Linked DNA regions of Homo sapiens: regions 2 and 3 are each linked to region 1. Evidence: fine-mapped expression QTL. A gene starts in region 1. Each other region holds a variant in brackets. All regions are shown on one strand. Distances are between the middles of the regions.

Evidence for each region. PIP is the estimated chance that this variant, and not a neighbour inherited with it, causes the effect.
Region 2: its variant is the best candidate, but not a certain one, in a credible set for the expression of PLEKHA5 in whole blood (TOPMed, PIP 0.80).
Region 3: its variant is the best candidate, but not a certain one, in a credible set for the expression of PLEKHA5 in monocytes after Pam3CSK4 (Quach 2016, PIP 0.73).

Annotation. Positions count from the first base shown.
Region 1 is chr12:19,127,219-19,133,335 of GRCh38, reverse strand. It overlaps PLEKHA5 (pleckstrin homology domain containing A5), which reads right to left and starts at 3,603. Exons shown (of 32, transcript NM_001256470.2): 1 at 3,448-3,603; 2 at 3,206-3,285; 3 at 886-943. The coding sequence starts at 3,536.
Region 2 is chr12:19,363,875-19,369,991 of GRCh38, reverse strand. PLEKHA5 (pleckstrin homology domain containing A5) reads right to left here. Exons shown (of 32, transcript NM_001256470.2): 30 at 3,883-4,028; 31 at 194-299. The coding sequence ends at 205. Among named protein-coding and RNA genes, the nearest start is that of AEBP2, 73 kb to the left of the region's middle. The variant T/C (reference allele first, on the strand shown) is at 2,548.
Region 3 is chr12:19,211,448-19,217,564 of GRCh38, reverse strand. All of the region lies in intron 3 of PLEKHA5 (pleckstrin homology domain containing A5), which reads right to left. Among named protein-coding and RNA genes, the nearest start is that of PLEKHA5, 85 kb to the right of the region's middle. The variant TA/A (reference allele first, on the strand shown) is at 2,685.

The DNA of each region.
Region 1 (6,117 bases):
CGTTGGGGGATTAAAATTTTTCCTACATGATGTTGACCTCCAGCTTTGTATTTGTCTCCAAGTAGTACTAAGTTATTAAGTTTGAACATAAATTAGTTTAATATTCTAAAGAACTGGTTTTAAGATTGGGACTGACTGGTCATCTTTTCTCTCAAGCTCTACTAAAAGCCTTTTTTAAACAAACATATCAATAAAACATCTTGACTTAGACATATTTAAATAAACTGAGGCAAAAATACAAACAATGCTCCAATATATGCTCATGAAATATTCAGTAACTATTTCTATTTTTACTCCCTGACCGTCATTGTTTATCAAATTGTGCCTAGCTTTACATCACTTTTGCTACCTATAAACAGCCCTGGTCAAAATATACATGAACAAGGTTCACTAAAAAAAAAAAAAAAAAAAAGATGTTCACGTAACTCAGATTTTTTTTTGTTTGTTATCTCTCAGCACAGATAATCAAAGATCAAAACTTTAAGTACCACATAGCTAATGACCAATAATCCTCTATTACCCAGGAATATACACAGAAGCACCAAAAAAAAAAAAAAAAAAAGGTAATTGTGGTCATATTCTGATGAAGCTGGACGATTCCAAAAGAAAAAAACGAAGATACAAAATTATTTTTAAAAGTGGCCATAAATGATCTAATTTCCAAATCAATGAATCGATGAATATTCCAGGCAAATAACATTAGAAAAGTAAGAGTGCCATTTTCTTCTCTCAAAATTCTGACACTATACAAAATAAAGAATACAGTCACCATTATATGATAAACTTCAGAAAATCATGATCAAGACTGGACATACAACTATTCAGCTGAGGAGTAATCACAGCATTCTAATTACGAAGGAAAAAAATGAAAGTCAAAAAACTCACTTTATATAGTATCTTGCACCTTCAAAAGTATATGCTTCTTCCCAGCCAGTAGGCAAATCTAAAACAATACATATATTACAATTAGTATTACTTCAATGATAGCAAAATAAGTCTCAATCCATTTTAATTATCCATTTTCATTTATTAGCTGTTTTAATTAAGTAGATTACTAACAAAAAAAGTGTTGAGCTGGCAATACAACAGATATCATTTTTTGAAAAACAGCAATTCAAATTTAGAGCCACCAGAAAAGTAACCATAATATTAGAGATTATCTGACCTGAGCACACACTGTAATATATTAGGGTGGAGAGGAACTATGTTCTGGCACCCAAGAAAGCAAAGGGAAGCCTTCTCATCCCAGGTGGAACACTCATGAATGACTAGCAAAAAAAAAAGCTGGGTATAACAGGCAACGCCTGCCTCTTCTTGGGTATATTGTGTCTATTTAAGACCGTATTTTTCAGCTACACAAATGAATCCATCTAGGAAGTGTCACCAAAAAGAAGGCAGAACTTCCTAACTACTTAATTAATGGAAAAGAAATGACACCGAATACTTCCGTGTGTGTTTCTAAAAATTTGACTAAGAGACGTGAAGTTTCAAGTAGTAAAGTTGGGGATGATTCAGGTGAACAATGGTCATTATGTGCTACATATTATTATTAATGACAAGTTGTTTGGATTTCATCAAAATGCCTCTTGGAAGTAAAAACAACCGATGTGTGTACAAAACCAGAGTCCAAGCAAAGTAAAACCAAACCAGAAAAAAAAAAAAGTGAAATCACATAAAAGAATAAAATTTTTCTGTGGCGTGAATGTTACCAAATCTGTGGGGTTAACTAGGACACTTATTTATATCACTCATAATTCCATAGGATAATTAGTCTAAATAATTTAAATGTCATATCGTCTTTCATGAAATAAATCTATCATTATCCATAAAAGCAAAGAGGCCATCAAAGTTGGAATATGCGTGTAAAACACCAGAAAGGTATATTGAAGCAAAAGCCTGCACCGGGGAATTGAGAAACATGATAGTGTATTAGTCAGAAATGCCTTAAAAATGTAAGCTCATCATGCTTGCTACACCAGCCTTTCCTTTCTTCCTCCACCTTTTTGCAAATTTGGAGACATTAGTCACTTCAGTGAACTCCAGCATTTCACAGAGAGGCAGGTTTGTTCAATATCCTGGCAACTTTAACAGATTCACGGAATGTCAGAGTCCGAGAGAATGTACCCCAGAGGCCAGCTCTGAGGACTGCTGAAACTGGCCTCGCCTTCGACCCAAACTGCTCTCAAGCCTTTCCAATCACCAGGACTAGAGGCAGGCCAGTAAGAGAACACATGTTACATTTCAAAGACAAACAAGTCACGAATGTAAACAAAGAATGATAAAAGAAACCCAGACCAGTACAGAAACTACGAGGAGCCTTTTCCAGCTCCACTCACACTTAGCATTCAAACAAGCTCCCAAAGCCACCCGAGAGAGCCGCTTCCCCACGGACTCCCTCCAAACAGGGCCCGGGTGCCCCCATACGGGACACCCCCTCGCACGCCCACCGCCTCCTGGCAGTCTGTGCAACCTCCGTGCGGCTGGCGGGGACTTTAGATCCGGATCGCCAGCAACTGAGGCTGCGAACGCCTCCTCCGGCTCCGGCTGCTCCTCCCGTGGCAGGAGGGAACGCGCCAAGCGTTTCCCGAGCCGTTCCCTGTCACAGAGAGGATCGCAGCACCCCCGAACTCCTCTCCTCCTCCTCCTCCTCCTTCATCAGCCACCTACCCACAAGTCCCACCTAGGAGGAGGAAGCTGCACGGCAGGAGGCAGCGCTCCTGGGAGGAGGGGGAGGATGTGGTTACGTTATCCCGGCGGGCGATCGGGGTCCGGGGCTGCAGGGAGGGGAGTGGGTAAGGACTGCCTGAAGATTGCTGGGGGGCAAGACGGCAGCTGGGGGTCACCGGGGAGTGAGTAGCGGCCGCGGAGGAAAAACTCAGGACTCCAGGTTTCAGGGAGGGGAGCGTCGCCACTCTAGGGTCGCGAGGGTCGTCTAGGCTGGGATGGGGGGAGAAGGCGCAGGAAGAGGGCGCCGTCTCCAAGTGCTGATGAAAGGCTGAGGAGAAAGAGGCGCCCCGAGACTGGAGAGAACTCCCGGCGGCGGAGTCCCCGTGGCCCCTCTACCTGCGGCCGCTCCCGCCCGGCCTCCGCCCCGCCTCGCCGCCTCCCGGGGCCCGCGGCGCGGGGCAGGTTGCGGGGAGCCGGGCGGCCCGGGCTCTGCCGCCTCCTCCAGGCGGAGCCCAACTCCGTTTGGGCCCGGCGTTACCTGTGCTCTGCCGCCGGTGTCCGGTGACCACCGCCTCGCCGGTGACGGGGTGCAGCCAGGTGGTGCTCTTGGCCTCCTCGCTGCAGGGGTGAGAGAAGGGGCAGACACGGAGCGTGAGAGGGGACGCGGGGGCGAGCCGAGGGGCTGCAGGAGCACAGACCCGGGCTCTCCCCCGTGTCGCCAGCCGCCCGCCTCCTGCCCTCCCGCCCCCGCGGGCCCCCGTGCCGTCCCCGGCTCTTTACTTGATGAAGAAGACTCGGCCGCCCCTGGTGATCCCGTAAGTCCAGGACCGGGGCAGGGAGATCCACTCCAGGTTCAGATCCGCCGCCATGTCTGATCCCTAGCCGCCGCCGCCGCCTTCTCCTGCTGCCGCCGCGGCTGCCGAGGGAGGAGGGAACGAGCGAGCGAAGGGAGCGCGGAGCGAGCGCGCCTCCCCGGCCCGGCGCGCCCCCGCGCGCGCCCTACCCCCTCGGGCGGTGCCCGCCCCGCCGCCCCGGCAGGGTCCGGCCCCCGTCGCCGCCCCTCCGCATCCCGGCGGCCGCCGGCCGGCCGCCCCGCCGCGCGCTCGGGGGATGGGCAAGCGGCGCCGCGCCCCAGACCCCTCCCTCGGGCCCCTGCGGCGCGCCCGCCCCCTCCGCCGCGCGAAGGTTCCGGGATCGATTAAAAAAAAAAAAAAAAAAAAAAAAAAACGCGTCCTGCCCCCAGGGCTTTGCCCGAAGGCTTCCCATCCCAGGGCGCGATCAAAGGGAGCCTAATAATGCCCAAGCCCCTGATTTCTCTCTTTCAAACAACAAAAACACAGCGTCTGAGCTTTGTTTTATAAGAGCTGTTGGAGAGCCAACAGATTTTTCCAATATATTTATCGTTTTAAAATGGAAAGCTGTTTTTATTAAAGCACACGAAAGGCCTTTCCTGTTTGTTTGTTGTGTGCCAGATATCAAAGGTTGGACGTGATACGTGGCCCCATGAAATATGAGTGGATTTAGACTTGACAAAACAAGTTTTTTCTCTTCCTAGGCCCCTTAGGTCATATCTTATAAAATAAAAACTCGTCTTTTTCTGGTACTTGTTTTTAAAGATTCACTTAACATCAGTGTGGATTTTTACTTGCCCTGTCTCCAATAGATTACAATAATAGCTTATTTTATGGAGTCCTTGTGACGGTGTACATTTTTAAATCTTCACAACAACTATATATATATGTGTGTATATATATATATGTGTGTGTGTGTGTGTATATATACACACACACACACAATCTATAAAAAATCCCCATTTTACAGATAGGAAAAATGAAGTTTAAAAACACAGTAGTTTGCCCAGTCATAGTAATAACTGCCAAAGCCTGGATTCAAACTGGCTGTAGGATTTCAAAAGTATATTTGTATAACCTCCTTGCTGTACAAGCCCACTTTGTTTTACTGCGATTCACTTTATTGCTGTTTGCAGATCTTTCACATCTTACAAATTGAAGGTTTGTGGCAACTCTGCATTAAGCAAGTCCTAGCACCGTTTTTCAACAGCATTTGCTCACTACATGTCTCTGTGGCACATTTTGGTAATTCTTGCAATCTTTCAAACTTTTTCATTATTGTACCTGTTATAGTGATCTGTAATCAGTGATCTTTGATGTTACTGTTGAAATTGTTTTGAGGGCACCATGAACTGAGCCCATGTAAGACAGGGACTTAATAAATGTGTGTGTTCTGACTGCTCCACCAACCAGCTGTTCCTCTGTCTCTCTGCTTCATCTTGGGCCTCCATATTCCCTGAAATGAAACACTAATAATTGTCTAATAATAATGGCCTAATATTGAAATTAGGCCAACCAGTAACCCTACAATGCCCTTTAAGTGACCAAGTGAAAGGAAGAGTTGCATGTCCCTTACTTTAAATGAAAAGCTAGAAACGATTAAGCTCAGATGTATCAACAGCCAAGAGAGGCCAAAAGCTCGGCCTTGTGTCAAATAATTAGACAAGTTGGGAATGCAAAGGAAATGTTCTTGAAGGAAATTGAAAATGCTACTCTGGTGAAAACATGAATTATAAGAAAACAAAACAGCCTCATTGCAGATAGGGAGAAAATTTTAGTGGTCTGGGGAGAAGATCAACCTAGCTACAACATTCCCTTTAGCCAAAGCCTAATCCAGAGCAAGGCTCTAACTCTCTTCAATCTTATGAAGGTTGAGAGAGCTGAGGAAGCTGCAGAAGAAAAGGTTGAAGCTATCAGGGATTTAAGGAAAAACACCATCTCCGTAACATAATAGTGCAAGATGAAGCAGCAAATGATGTAGAAGCTGCAGCAAGTTATCCAGAAAATCTAGTCAAGATCATTGAAGGTGGATACACTAAACATATTTTCAATGTAGACAAAACAGCCTACTATTGAAAGAAGATGCCATCTAGGACTTTCACTGCTAGAGAGGAAAAGTCAATGCCTGGCTTCAAAGCTTCAAAGGGCAGGCTGACTTTTTTGTTAGGAGATAATGCAGCTGGTGATTTTAGGTTGAAGCCAATTCTCATTGACCATTCCAAAAATTCTAAGACCCTTAAAAATTATGCTAAATATACTCTTCCTGTGCTCTATAAATGGAACAACAAAGCCTAGATGACAGCACATCTGTCATGGCTGACTGAACATTTTAAGTCTGCTGTTGAGACCTACTGCTCAAAAAAAAAAAAAAAAAAAGAAAAGAAAAAGTGATTCCTTTCAAAATATTTCTGTTCATTGACAGTGTACCTGTTTACCCAAGAGTTCTCCTGGAGACATACAAGAGATTAGTGTTGTTTTCATGTTGGCTAACCCAACATGCATTCCACAGTTCATGGATCAAGGAGTCATTGTGACTTTCAAGTCTTATTATGTAGAAAGTACATTTCATAAGGCTATAGCTGCCAGAGATAGGGGGTCC
Region 2 (6,117 bases), 240 kb before region 1:
CACAGCAAATCATCAGAGGAGCCAATGTTAGCAATCTGTTACCAACCCTGGTTCCAAGATATGCCTACTTGTTCTGCCAACTATCCCTATGTACAGTCCAGAACTAATCCCAGTTTTGATTCACTAAACCAACAGATAAGTCATAAAATTCAAGTAAAAAACTAAAGCACAAATGCAAAGGGAAATGACGTACTTCTTCTAAGACTACACACACATGAAATGTGATCCTTCTGTGAGCTGCGGCTGAGTGGATGGAACTGGCGATGCCGAGGACTCAGGAGATGGGGACAGACTTTTCACTAAAACACACAAAGAAAATGGGAGAAGATAAAAATCTTTAAGACACATTTGGAGAAGTAAATCCTGATGCTGTAATCCCACAAAAATTAGAACATGTTTTGAGAAGGAAGTAATAGATACATTTGGTTCTATTGTGATTTTTTCTTTTTAAATAATTAAAAACAAATTTTTATTAATTGAGATGGGGTCTCACCATGTTGACCAGGCTGGTCTTGAACTCCTGGCATCATGCAATCCTCCCATCTTGGTCTCCCGAAGTGTTGGGATTATGTGCCCAGCCTGTTATTTTCTAATTTGCAATCTAATTATTCAGTATAAAATATTTCCTGACAACTACTTAAAAATTTTTTTTTTTTTGGCTGGGCGTGGTGGCTCATGTCTGTAATCCCACCACTTTGGGAGGCCGAGGCAGGCGGATCATTTGAGGTCAGGAGTTCGAGACCAGCCAGGCCAACATGGTGAAACCCCGACTCTACTAAAAATACAAAAATTAGTCAGACATGGTAGCTCGTGCCTGTAGTCCTAGCTACTTAGGAGGCCGGGGTAGGAGAAATGCTTGAACCCAAGAGCCAGAGGCTGCAATGAGCTGAGATTGTACCACTGTACTCTAGCCTGGGCAAGAGAGCAAGACTTTGTCTCAAACAACAACAACAACAACAAAAAACAAACAAACAAAAAAAATACTTTACATTTTTTTTTTCTGCTTTGAGGTTAATTTTCTGTTGGAACTTTTTTTAGTTCTATGCAGCTAAATACTATGGATGATTTAAATGTTGTGGTTTTAATACTATCATAACACTTTGATCCAGACCTGCTGCATAATAACCAAAACTGGCCAGTGACAATTTTTTTTTTAACAAGTGAGACCTCCTGTGCACACTACCTTATTCATTTATTTAGAGACAGAATTTCGCTCTTTGTTGCCCAGGCTGGAGTGCAGTGGCGTGATCTCGGCTCATCACAACCTCTGCCTCCCAAGTTCAAGCGATTCTCCTGCCTCAGCCTCCTGAGTAGCTGGGATTACAGGCATGGCCACCATGCCTGGCTAATTTTGTATTTTTAGTAGAGACGGGGTTTCTCCATGTTGGTCAGGCTGGTCTCGAACTCCAAACCTCAGGTGATCCACCTGCCTCAGTCTCCCAAAGTGCTGGGATTATAGGCGTGAGCCACTGTGCCTGGCTATTTATTTATTTTTTGAGACAGGGTCTTGCTCTGTTGCTCAGGCTGGAAAGCAGTAATGCAGTCACACAGCTCATTGTAGCCTCAACCTCCTGGGCTCAGGTGATCCTCCTACCTCAGCCTCCTGAGAAGCTGGGTCTATAGTGCCATCCCATCCGGCTAATTTTTTAAAAGCATTATTTTTAGTAGAAACGTTGTCTTGTTACATTGCCTAGGCTGGTCTTGAACTCCTGAGCTCAAGCAATACTCCTGCCTTGGCTTCCGAAAGTGCTGAGATTATAGGCGTGAGCCACTGCACCCAGCTCATACTGCCTTGTAAGTGACAGAGGCAAAGGAAAAGGCAGTGCTTAGTATTTGTTACAAGGGAACATGACTGGTAATATAAATTTATAATTTATTTTAAATAAGTAAATTAAATAAAGTTTATTTTATTTAAATTTATAACATACACGTTATATTTATATAAGATACGGAAGATGTTCTGCCCAGAACCCCATGCTTTTCCTAAGAAGAATGGTCCTGAATACTTGAATTTCATTGTTTCTTACTCTTCTGCAAAAGGGCAGGAGTGGTGGCGGGGTTTTGTAGGAATGGTTTTTTACTTATGGACTACAAGAAGCAAAGCTGGGCCGGGCGCAGTGGCTCATGCCTATAATCCCAGCACTTTGGGAGGCCGAGGCGGGCGGATCACGAGGCCAGGAGATTGAGACCAACCTGGCTAACAGTGAAACCCTATCTCTACTAAAAAAAAAAAAAATACAAAAAATTAGCCAGGCGTGGTGACGGACACCTACAGTCCCAGCTACTCAGGAGGCTGAGGCAGAAGAATGGCATGAACCCAGGAGGCGGAGCTTGCAGTGAGTGGAGATCGCGCCACTGCACTCCAGCCTGGGCAACAGAGCAAGACTCCATCTCAAAAATAAAATAAAATAAAATAAAATAAAAAAGAAGCAAAGCTGGCTGGGCATGGTGGCTCACGCCTGTAATCCTAGCACTTTGGGAAGCTGAGGTGGGTGGATCACCTGAGGTCAGGAGTTCAAGACCAGCCTGGCCAACATGGCGAGACCC[T/C]GCCTCTACAAAAATACAAAAATTAGCTGGGCGTGGTGGTGGGCACCTATAATCCCAGCTACTTGGGAGGCTGAGGCAGGAGAATCGCTTGAACCTGGGAGGTGGAGATTGCAGTGAGCTGAGATCACGCCACATCACTCCAGCCTGGGTGAAAGAGCTTCAAAAAAAAAAAAAAAAAAAAAAAAAGAAGAAGCAAAGCGATAATATGCACTAATTCCCATCCCTGTTCCCAAAAAATCATAAAGAAAAAGAGTAAAAGGGCCGGGCATGGTGGCTTATGCCTGTAATCCCAGCACTTTGGGAGGTTGAGGCGCGCTGATCACTGGAGGTCAGGAGTTCCAGACCAGCCTGGCCAACATAGTAACCCCCATCTGTACTACAAATACAAAAAATTAGCCGGGTGTGGTGGCACACACCTGTAGTCCCAGCTACTAGGGAGGCAGAGGTTGCAGTGAGCCAAGATAGCGCCACTGCACTCCAGCGCTGGCAACAGAGGGAGTACTCTGCCTCCAGGAAAAAAAAAGAAAAGATTTGTGAAGAGTCCAAAAAATATGAGAGAATAGAGCACAGAACAACTTGTTTTTTTTAAAATGCCATGGATAATAATTTTCTACAATTGAAGGAACAGCCAGGTATGGATTATAGCAATGCTGGAGTAAACAAACCCATTCTATTAGTTTAGATATTAAATCCTCCACAGTTCCCAATGTGGCAGGCTTGTGAATACTCTGAGAATCTAGCCCTGAGAACAGATAGATTTTCCAAGTACTGAAAGATTTTCTTTTCTTTTCTGAGAAGGAGTCTCGCTCTGTCACCCAGGCTGGAGTGCAGTGGCACGATCTCGGCTCACTGCAACCTCCGCCTCTGGGGTTCAAGCAATTCTCTGCCTCAGCCTCCTGAGTAGCTGGGATTGGAGGTGGCTGCCACCATGCCCGGCTAATTTTTTGTATTTTTAGTAGAGACGGGGTTTCACTATCTTGGCCAGGCTGGTCTTGAACCCCTGACCTCGTGGTCCACCTGCCTCGGCCTCCCAAAATGCTGGATTACAGGTGTGAGCCACCGCACCCGGCCAAAAGATTTTATTAGAAAAAGTTTACTCTATGTGTTAAAATTGAAAGGAAAAAGCAAAACCAAAGCCAATGTGTTGATCCCTCTGCCAGGGTAGACTCTGGCAGGGGCTGCATCCTCCTGAAGGTACACTTGGGGAGGCAAACGTTGACTCATCTGTAGTCAAGGTACTTAAGCGATTCCCTTCTTAGAATCTCCCCATGGAAAATAAATTTAGAAGTTCAGAGGAAGCACCAGGTAGAAAATTATGAAGTGTATACTACCTACCTGCCATTGTTTGATTTCCTCTAGAAACCTCAGGAGTTGATTCGTAAGAAATAACAGTTTCTTCCTGTTCGTCAACACTGTTCTTTGTATTTTCTTCAGGATGCTCTTCTGGTTTATGATTTGCGGTCTGTGTTTCATCTTGAGGGCTGATGAAAATAGATTGGTATTTAAAAATTTGTCACTATAGAATACAATTAATTTTTCTTTTTTTTGTTATAAAAGATGCCACCACCTATGTTTAACAACGAACATTTTCTTACAATTAATCTTTTCTTTCTTTTGAAAGTTTCAAACAAAAGAATTAGAGCAAATAATAAACCTGTATATTCATTTCAATAATTACTTGGTTTGCCAATCTTGCTTCATCTAAGCCCTAAAATCCTTGCTCCCTAAACCATTTAAAGCAGATTCTACATATGATATTTAATTTGTAAGTACTTCAGAACATATTTTTAATATGTTAATGCCATCAAATATCCAGTCAGTGCTTAAATTTTCCTGGTGCCTCATAATGTCATTTTAGAATTAGAATCAGGATCCAAACAAGGTCCATATATTGCCTGACAAATTCCTTAAAGTCTACTTTAATCCAAAACAAACTGCCCCAGATCCCTTTTATTCTTTGCCATTTATATGTAAAAGAACTTGGTCTATCTGTCCTATATAGTTTATCACATTCTGGATTCTGATGATTGTATCCCTCAGGATTTTCTATAAAGTTATAAGATTTTTTTTTTTTTTTTTGAGACGGAGTCTCACTCTGTCGCCCAGGCTGGAGTGCAGTGGCGCGATCTAGGCTCACTGCAAGCTCACCTCCCAGGTTCTCACCATTCTCCTGCCTCAGCCTCCCGAGTAGCAGGGACTACGGGCGCCTGCCACCACGTCCGGCTTTTTGTATTTTTAGTAGAGACGGGGTTTCACCGTGTTAGCCAGGATGGTCTCGATCTCCTGACCTCTTGATCTGCCCACCTCAGCCTCCCAAAGTGGTGGGATTACAGGCGTGACCTACTGCGCCTGGCCAAAGTTATATGATTTTAAGGCTTATTCAAATTTAGGTTTTGGAGGGGCAAGTAGCACTTCATTAGGTGGGTGTCATGAACTATTGCATTAACAGATTGTTTCTTTTTGTGATGTTAAAAATGATCAGTGTGGCTGAGCGCGGTGGCTCACGCCTGTAATCACAGCACTTTGAGAGGCCAAGGCAGGATCATGAGGTCAGGAGTTCAAGACCAGCCTAGCCAAGATGGTGAAACTCTGTTTCTACTAAAATACAAAAATTAGCCGGGCACAGTGGCAGGCGCCTATAAACCCAGCTACTTGGGAGGCTGAGGCAGGAGAACTGCTTGAATCGGGCGGCGGGGCAGAGGTTGCAGTGAGCCAAGATTGCGCCACTGCACGCCAGCCTGGGCGACAGAGTGAGATCCCGTCTCAAAAAAAAAACAAACATTAGTGAGTTCAGGGGTTATTGGGTTGACCCATTCATATAAAGATCCTTGTCAGATTTTCAGCTGATAGCTTTGGCAGCCACTGAGGAATATTGTTCAAATCCATTATGGCATTAGGGCTAGCAAAGCAATGACACATATATATTTTTTTTTTGAGGCAGATTCTCACTCTGTCGCCCAGGCTGGAGTACAGTGGCGGGATCTCGGCTCACTGAGACCTCCGCCTCCCTGGCTCAAGCAATTCTTGTGCCTCAGTCTCACAAGCAGGTGGGATTACAGGAATGTACCACTATGCCCGGATAATTTTTGTATTTTTAGTAGAGACAGTGTTTCACCATATTATTGGCCAGGCTAGTTTCAAACTCCTGACCTCAATTGATCTGCCCACCTCAGCCTCCCAAACTGCTGGGATTTCAGGCACGAGCCACTGCACCCTGCCACAAAACAATGATACTCTGACTCCCACTTGAAATTCTTCTAAAAATAAGTTTCCTCAAACTATTTGGTTACAATTTGGGAAAAAAACATGATAAATACTTGATCCTTTCCCTTAATGTACCAAGTTTTGGAATTAAAAGTTGATTCTCTAGCATCCTCCAAAATGGCCAACAAGTAATTTTTTTGTTGTTGTATCATTATGAACTCATCAATTTTTAATATACTGTGTTTTAATCTATGCTTCTTAATACAAAAATTCAGCAGAGATATTTTTCTTAGCAGACATTGCCAAATACTTTTCAAATTCAATCTTGCTATTCATTTAAGAAATCAAGGCATTCCTAATAACAGT
Region 3 (6,117 bases), 84 kb before region 1:
ATTTTTATTCATACCTGTTGAACATTTTTATTCTGATTTGCATCCCTACCTTATCCCACAATTGGCATAGTGACAGCAACAAAAGCAACTGGCACAATTAAAATTTATTAAGCATTTATGTGCTCAGGCCGTATGCCAAGCTCCTATCACATATATCATCCTGTACATATTTAGCCTTTCCATTACTCCTTGGTGCCTAAATATTTCTGCAATTCTGGGTAACCTACTGCTTTATTCAATCTTTCCCTTTCTGGGAGTAAACTGCATTCCACACGTGTAATTCTCTTGTTTACTATCATATCAATCATCTCCCTGGCATAGAGAATAATGCTTAACACATAGTAGGTGTTTATGGAGCACAGAGTAAAATATTTGTTGCATGACTGAAAAACCCCATGTATCCCTTTTAATACTGTGTTTTTGATTATAATACGTTTAAAAATCATAATTACAACATGGGGATGAATCCTTGGCGTTGCCATTCTGAAGGTCAAAACCAGTCTAATATTGGCTATTGCATTTACTTAATTTAGACAATATTGTTGTAAGGCAGTCTCACTGCTATGACTATAAAACACAATCAAAATAACTACATCAGTAATTACAGTATTGAGAAAAGAAGTCATGGAGGACTTTTTCTGGAGAGAGAGTCAAGGAAAGAAGGATTAGAAGCATCCCAGGTTATATTTAACATATTAAGAGGTAACAGTAGCAGGCAGACAATCAGTAGTAGATCTGGAAGATAGTAATCACATTTACAAGAAAACATGATAGGAAAAACCTATGTCTCACCTTCATTTTCTCCCTGTCCTAATAACGGTTCTTAGCCCACAGCCATCCAGGCAGTGAATCCCTTAGGTAGTCTAGGCTCTGCCCTTAACAGAACTTTTTTTTTTTTTTTTGAGATGGATTCTCGCTCTGTCACCCAGGCTGGAGTGCAGTGGTGTGATCTGGGCTCACTGCAACCTCCACCTCCCAGGTTCAAGCAATTCTCTTGCCTCAGCCTCCAAAGTAGATGGGACTACAAGTGCCTGCTACCACGCCTGGCTAATTTTTGTATTTTTAGTAGAGATGGGGTTTCGGCATGTTGGCCAGGCTGGTCTCGAACTCCTGACCTCAAATGATCTGCCCACCTTGGCCTCCTAAAGTGCTGGGATTACAGGCATGAGCCACTGTGCCCGGCCAACAGAACATTTAACCACTAGAAGGATCACATTAGTTTAGGACCTCTAAGAATCACCTATATTAAGATGAGTTCAATGTTACTCTCTTAGATTTTTTCCAAAGACAGCTGTAATAAAAAACCAAAGGAAGCCTGCCTATTTAGCTGCAAAAATTTTGTACAGCAAATTGTCTATTATACCACCCAGTGTTCCTAAATAAAAACCCACATGAGAAATTCTATTCAAGGAAAAACTGTCTCTCCGGATAAACCAAAATGCCTCTTCTTTCTGACAGCATGGTAACTTATATTTCCCTTTTACAATGGGAAACGGAGCTAAAACTGAAGTTCAATTACAGCAATGTTATTGACTTCTATGTTTAGCAAGTCGGTATTTTGTGATTTTCTTTACTTCTAAACTTATCTATATTTTATTGCTTACACTTATCTTTTAAGTTTTCTAGAAAAAAACAATAAAAATAAATGTAATTCATACCCAACTCAATATTATACAACCTTTTCTAACACATCTTATTTGTAAGTTGGGGGCTGACTTGTTGTTAAATTACCATTTTACCTTTGGAGACACAAATTTAGTCAGAAAGCCAAAAGTCAGTGCTTCTTCAAGCTATTGATATTATATTTACCATGTTGGCAATTATTAAGTGCCTATTATAGCTCTTGTTGGCTAGAACAATTTTTTTAAACTTGCTGAATTACTTGAGACTAAATTTAAAACTGCTAAAATTTTTAAAGGGGTCTCAGAGTAGAACAGGGCTCTTTATATGGCTTATTTTATGAAATGTTCTCAGAAGAATATGATTATATGATTTCAAATATAAGAATGCTTTACAATTTTTAAAAAGTATAACTTGAAGTGACAGGGGATGCTGTTATCCAAACTACTATATGCAACGCCCCTTACCTCCACACACATGAGGATAAAATGTTAGCTGTTAACATGTCAGAGGACATATTTCCCTGGCCATTTCTGCATGCTAGAAAGCACTAAACACTCAATAAATAGTTACTCAGCGTCTGGATTCTATTATAGCTTCCATATTATTTATAACTCATAACATATTTTTATATTTTACATTTAAAAAAAAACTTTTGGCTAGCTGGCTAACCTAAACCAGCTTAAACTGACAAGGAAGTTCCAAGTAGTGCAAAAGAAGAAATAGTTTTTAGTAAGCAGATACATTTTAGAGCAATTTTTTTTTTTTGAGACGGAATCTCACTCTGTCTTCCAGGATGGAGTGCAGTGGCACCATCTCAGCTCACTGCAACCTCTGCCTCTCAGGTTCAAGTGATTCTCCTGCCTCAGCCTCTGGAGTAGCTGGGATTACAGGCATGCGCCACCACACCCAGCTAATTTTTTATTTTTAGTAGAAACGGGGTTTCACCATGTTGGCCAGGATGGCCTCGAACTCCTGACCTCAGGTGATCCGCCCACCTCGGCCTCCCAAAGTGCTGGGATTACAGGCATGAGCCACCGCACCCAGCCAATTTTTTTTTTTTT[TA/A]AGGAAAGAAATATGCTGCTTTCAAATGAAAGGCAGCATCTACCCATGCAGATTGAATGATGTGATGAACAATTCATGGTTTTCACTTTCAGATGGGCTCTTAACACCATCTGGCAGACAACTCTTTCATTTGCTTTCATTCTCCCTTTAGCAGCTATTCTAAAATTTTTGTCACTCTCCTTAAGCCACCATCCTAATCACTCCCATGCCCCAAGCAAATATTTGTTGCCCTCAAATCTTAGGGTAGTTAAGTCCACCCTCCATCATATGTCGCTGGATCTGTTTTCTTCCCAACATCCCTGGCACCTTGTCCTAACAACTGGTTCTTCTCTTCCCTCCATCTTCAACCTTTTCTCTCTACTGGCTCCTATGTACCAGCTGAAAAACACACTTTAGTCACTCCCATTCTTTGATGTTGTTGAATTTCTCTTTTCCTTCTCAGTCAAAAAGGCTATTTGTACTTCTCACTTCCTCCCTCCCACCTCTTTCCCTCCTCCATTAACTGTAATCTTAATTCTATTCTCCCTATTGCCTCAGCAAAGGTCACTGATGTCTCTTTAACTGACAAAGTCAAAAGGTGCTTCTTGGTCCGCATCTCAAAGGACTGATGTGTAGCACCTGAGACAGTTAACACTCCCCTCTCCTGGTTTTCCTAATCTCAGTCCTCTGGTTCTTTTATGCTAATCACTTCTGCTAGGTCTGCTCTGCTGAATTAGCATTCCTTTACACAGCAGCTAGACATTTGTTTCTTTTATGGTTCTACCTCCAAACCTACTTCATTTTACACACTCCATCCTTAAGTGGTTCAATCCATTCCTTATTAACCTTATCATTCAATAACAATATTGATGTTTTAACTAAACCTTTACATTCTAAATCTATTGCTCTGATAATATTAGTATTATCATAATTATTATTATTTTGTTGTGTACAGCCCTATATCCAATTTTTGCTTCTCAACAAAAAGAATATCCTATCTACATTTCAAACTTAAAAGGTCCAATCTTCATTCCCAGTTAAACCTGTTTTTCCCCTGAAAATGTCTCATCTCAAACACAATTCAAATGCCAGAGAGAACAGTTCTCCCTCTCACATTCGCTACCTGCCATCCCAGTTCATCAAACCTAACATTCCATCTCCTTAACTTACGTTGTATTGATCTATCTCTATTTCCACTGCCACAGTTTAAAATCCTTGTCCCATTTTCAACTGTACTATTTCAAACATTAAGGAATCTATGCCCTATCTCCTCCTCCTTCAATTTGTCCTCCACACTGCTGCAAGTTTCTCTAATATGCAATTTGTCCTGTTCTGCTCCCCTACTGAAACCCTTAAAAATGACCCTCACCAAAGCCTGCAGGATTGTCTATGCTCCTTAGCATGGCATACAAGGCTTTTCAGATCTGCCTTCCTCATCTGCCTGTGCTCCCTGCCCCCAAGCACCTCACATTGAATACTCTAGCAGCACTGAAGGACCTGTTCCTTGAAGACATCTATAATCTTTTGGTCTTGCTGTTCACTCTTGTCTAGAGTGCCACACATCCCTGCTTTTCTGCTTAGCAATTTTTTTTTTTCAAAGAAACCATGCTTAGCAAATGCCTATTCATCCTTCAAAACCCAACACAGACATAATCTGCTCTGAGAAGCCACCCACACCCTCATATCCTTGGGCAGAAGAAATCGTTCCCCATCCATGCCGCTGCACACAATACACATACTTCTCTCTCACTGTACGCAGCACCTGCTCCAAAGGGATCAGTCACCTTCTTTGAAGATTTAGGTCACCTGGGTCTGGAATGTGTAAATAATCTCATGTTTGTTTCACTATCTGACATAAATGATATTCTTATAGACCCTATTTCCCCTATGTGGTAGATTAGGAGTTGTCTGAATTCTTGGAAATCTAGTATAGGTACTGGAACAAGACTGAAAACAATTCTTCAGTTTAGAGATTAAGAATTTTGGAGTTACATAGATCTGGGCTTAAATTCTAACTCTGCCACTTACAGTCTCCGGGAGCCTGAAATTAAAAAAAAAAAAAAAACAACAAAAAAAAACCCACTCTCATCATGTTTTCCTCTTTCTGAAATGGGAATGATATCTTCCCTGTAGATGCTGTGAGGATATGTTTGATGAATTTATGAACATACTGGTCATGCAACATTTCAAAAGTTATAAATATTTAAGATTAAAGCTAAACTAATGAGCATGGATTAATTTTTCTTTTTCTTTTTTTCTTTTATTCGAGACAGGGTTTTGCCCTGTCTGCCTCCTGGGTTCAAGCAATTCTTGTGTCTCCGCCTCCGGAGTAGCTGGGATTACAGGCACCCGCCACCATGCCTGGCTAATTTTTGTATTTTAAGCAGAGATGAGATATCACCATGTTGGCCAGACTGGTCTTGAACTCCTGGCCTCAGGTGATCAGCCCGCCTCGGCCTCTGAGTGTTGGGATTACAGGCGTGGGCCACCACACGCAGCCAATTAATTTTTCAAAACCTGCTTACATTTACTTGAAAGTAATGTTTTAACAGATGCCTTATATTTTTGTTTCTCTTTTGACTTTGGTTGATAGCTGCCCCATGTTTAAATTTAAGATGGAATCTCGCTCTGTCTCCCAGGCTGGAGGGCAGTGGCCGTCGCCTCAGCTCACTGCAACCTTCACCTCCTGGGTTCAAGCGATTATTCCACGTGATCCCAACTGTGACAAAGACTTAGCAGATGTGACTGAATTACCAAAGTCACCAATGTTGTGGTAATTTGTTACAGTAGTCATTGGAAACTAATACAAGCCTCCGTTAAATAAAATTTATAGAAGTTCATTGGTTTGGACTGAGCTCCTGCACTAGGCTCAACAGACCAAACCAAAATGGAGTTACTCATGCTGAAGTTCACACCACCAAGCCAAAACCAAGTTGTTTATCTGACCTTCCAAGAAATCGGGAGAGGAATGGAGATAACAGCCAAATCCCCAAGCAGGCCAATTTTAGCTGGCATGATAAGGCAGTACCTCCTGCTTTAAACTTTAAAAAAGGTAAGTAACTTTAAAACAACCAAACTGCTTTTTGTTCTCTGTTTCGGCTTTCTTCAGCCCTTTTCTGTCAATAAAACCAACCTCCTCTGCTCAGCTCATCACAACACTCATTCTGTTTTATAGGATGAGGTCTCATCTGATTCTAGAATTGCAAATAAAAGCCAATTAAGATCTTTAAAATAAATTTTTTTTGTGACTAGGTCATTTGATATCTTCTATTGACTTAAAATAGAAATTTATTTTCTTTCAGCTCTAGAGGCCAGAATTCATGCCAAAATCAGTTTTAATGGGCAGATATTAAGGTGTTGAGAGGGATTCCATAGGCCGTAAAGGAGAATAAGTTCATGGTCGCCTCTTCCAGCTTCTGCATGCCTTGGCTTGTGGTCCCATCACTCCATCTC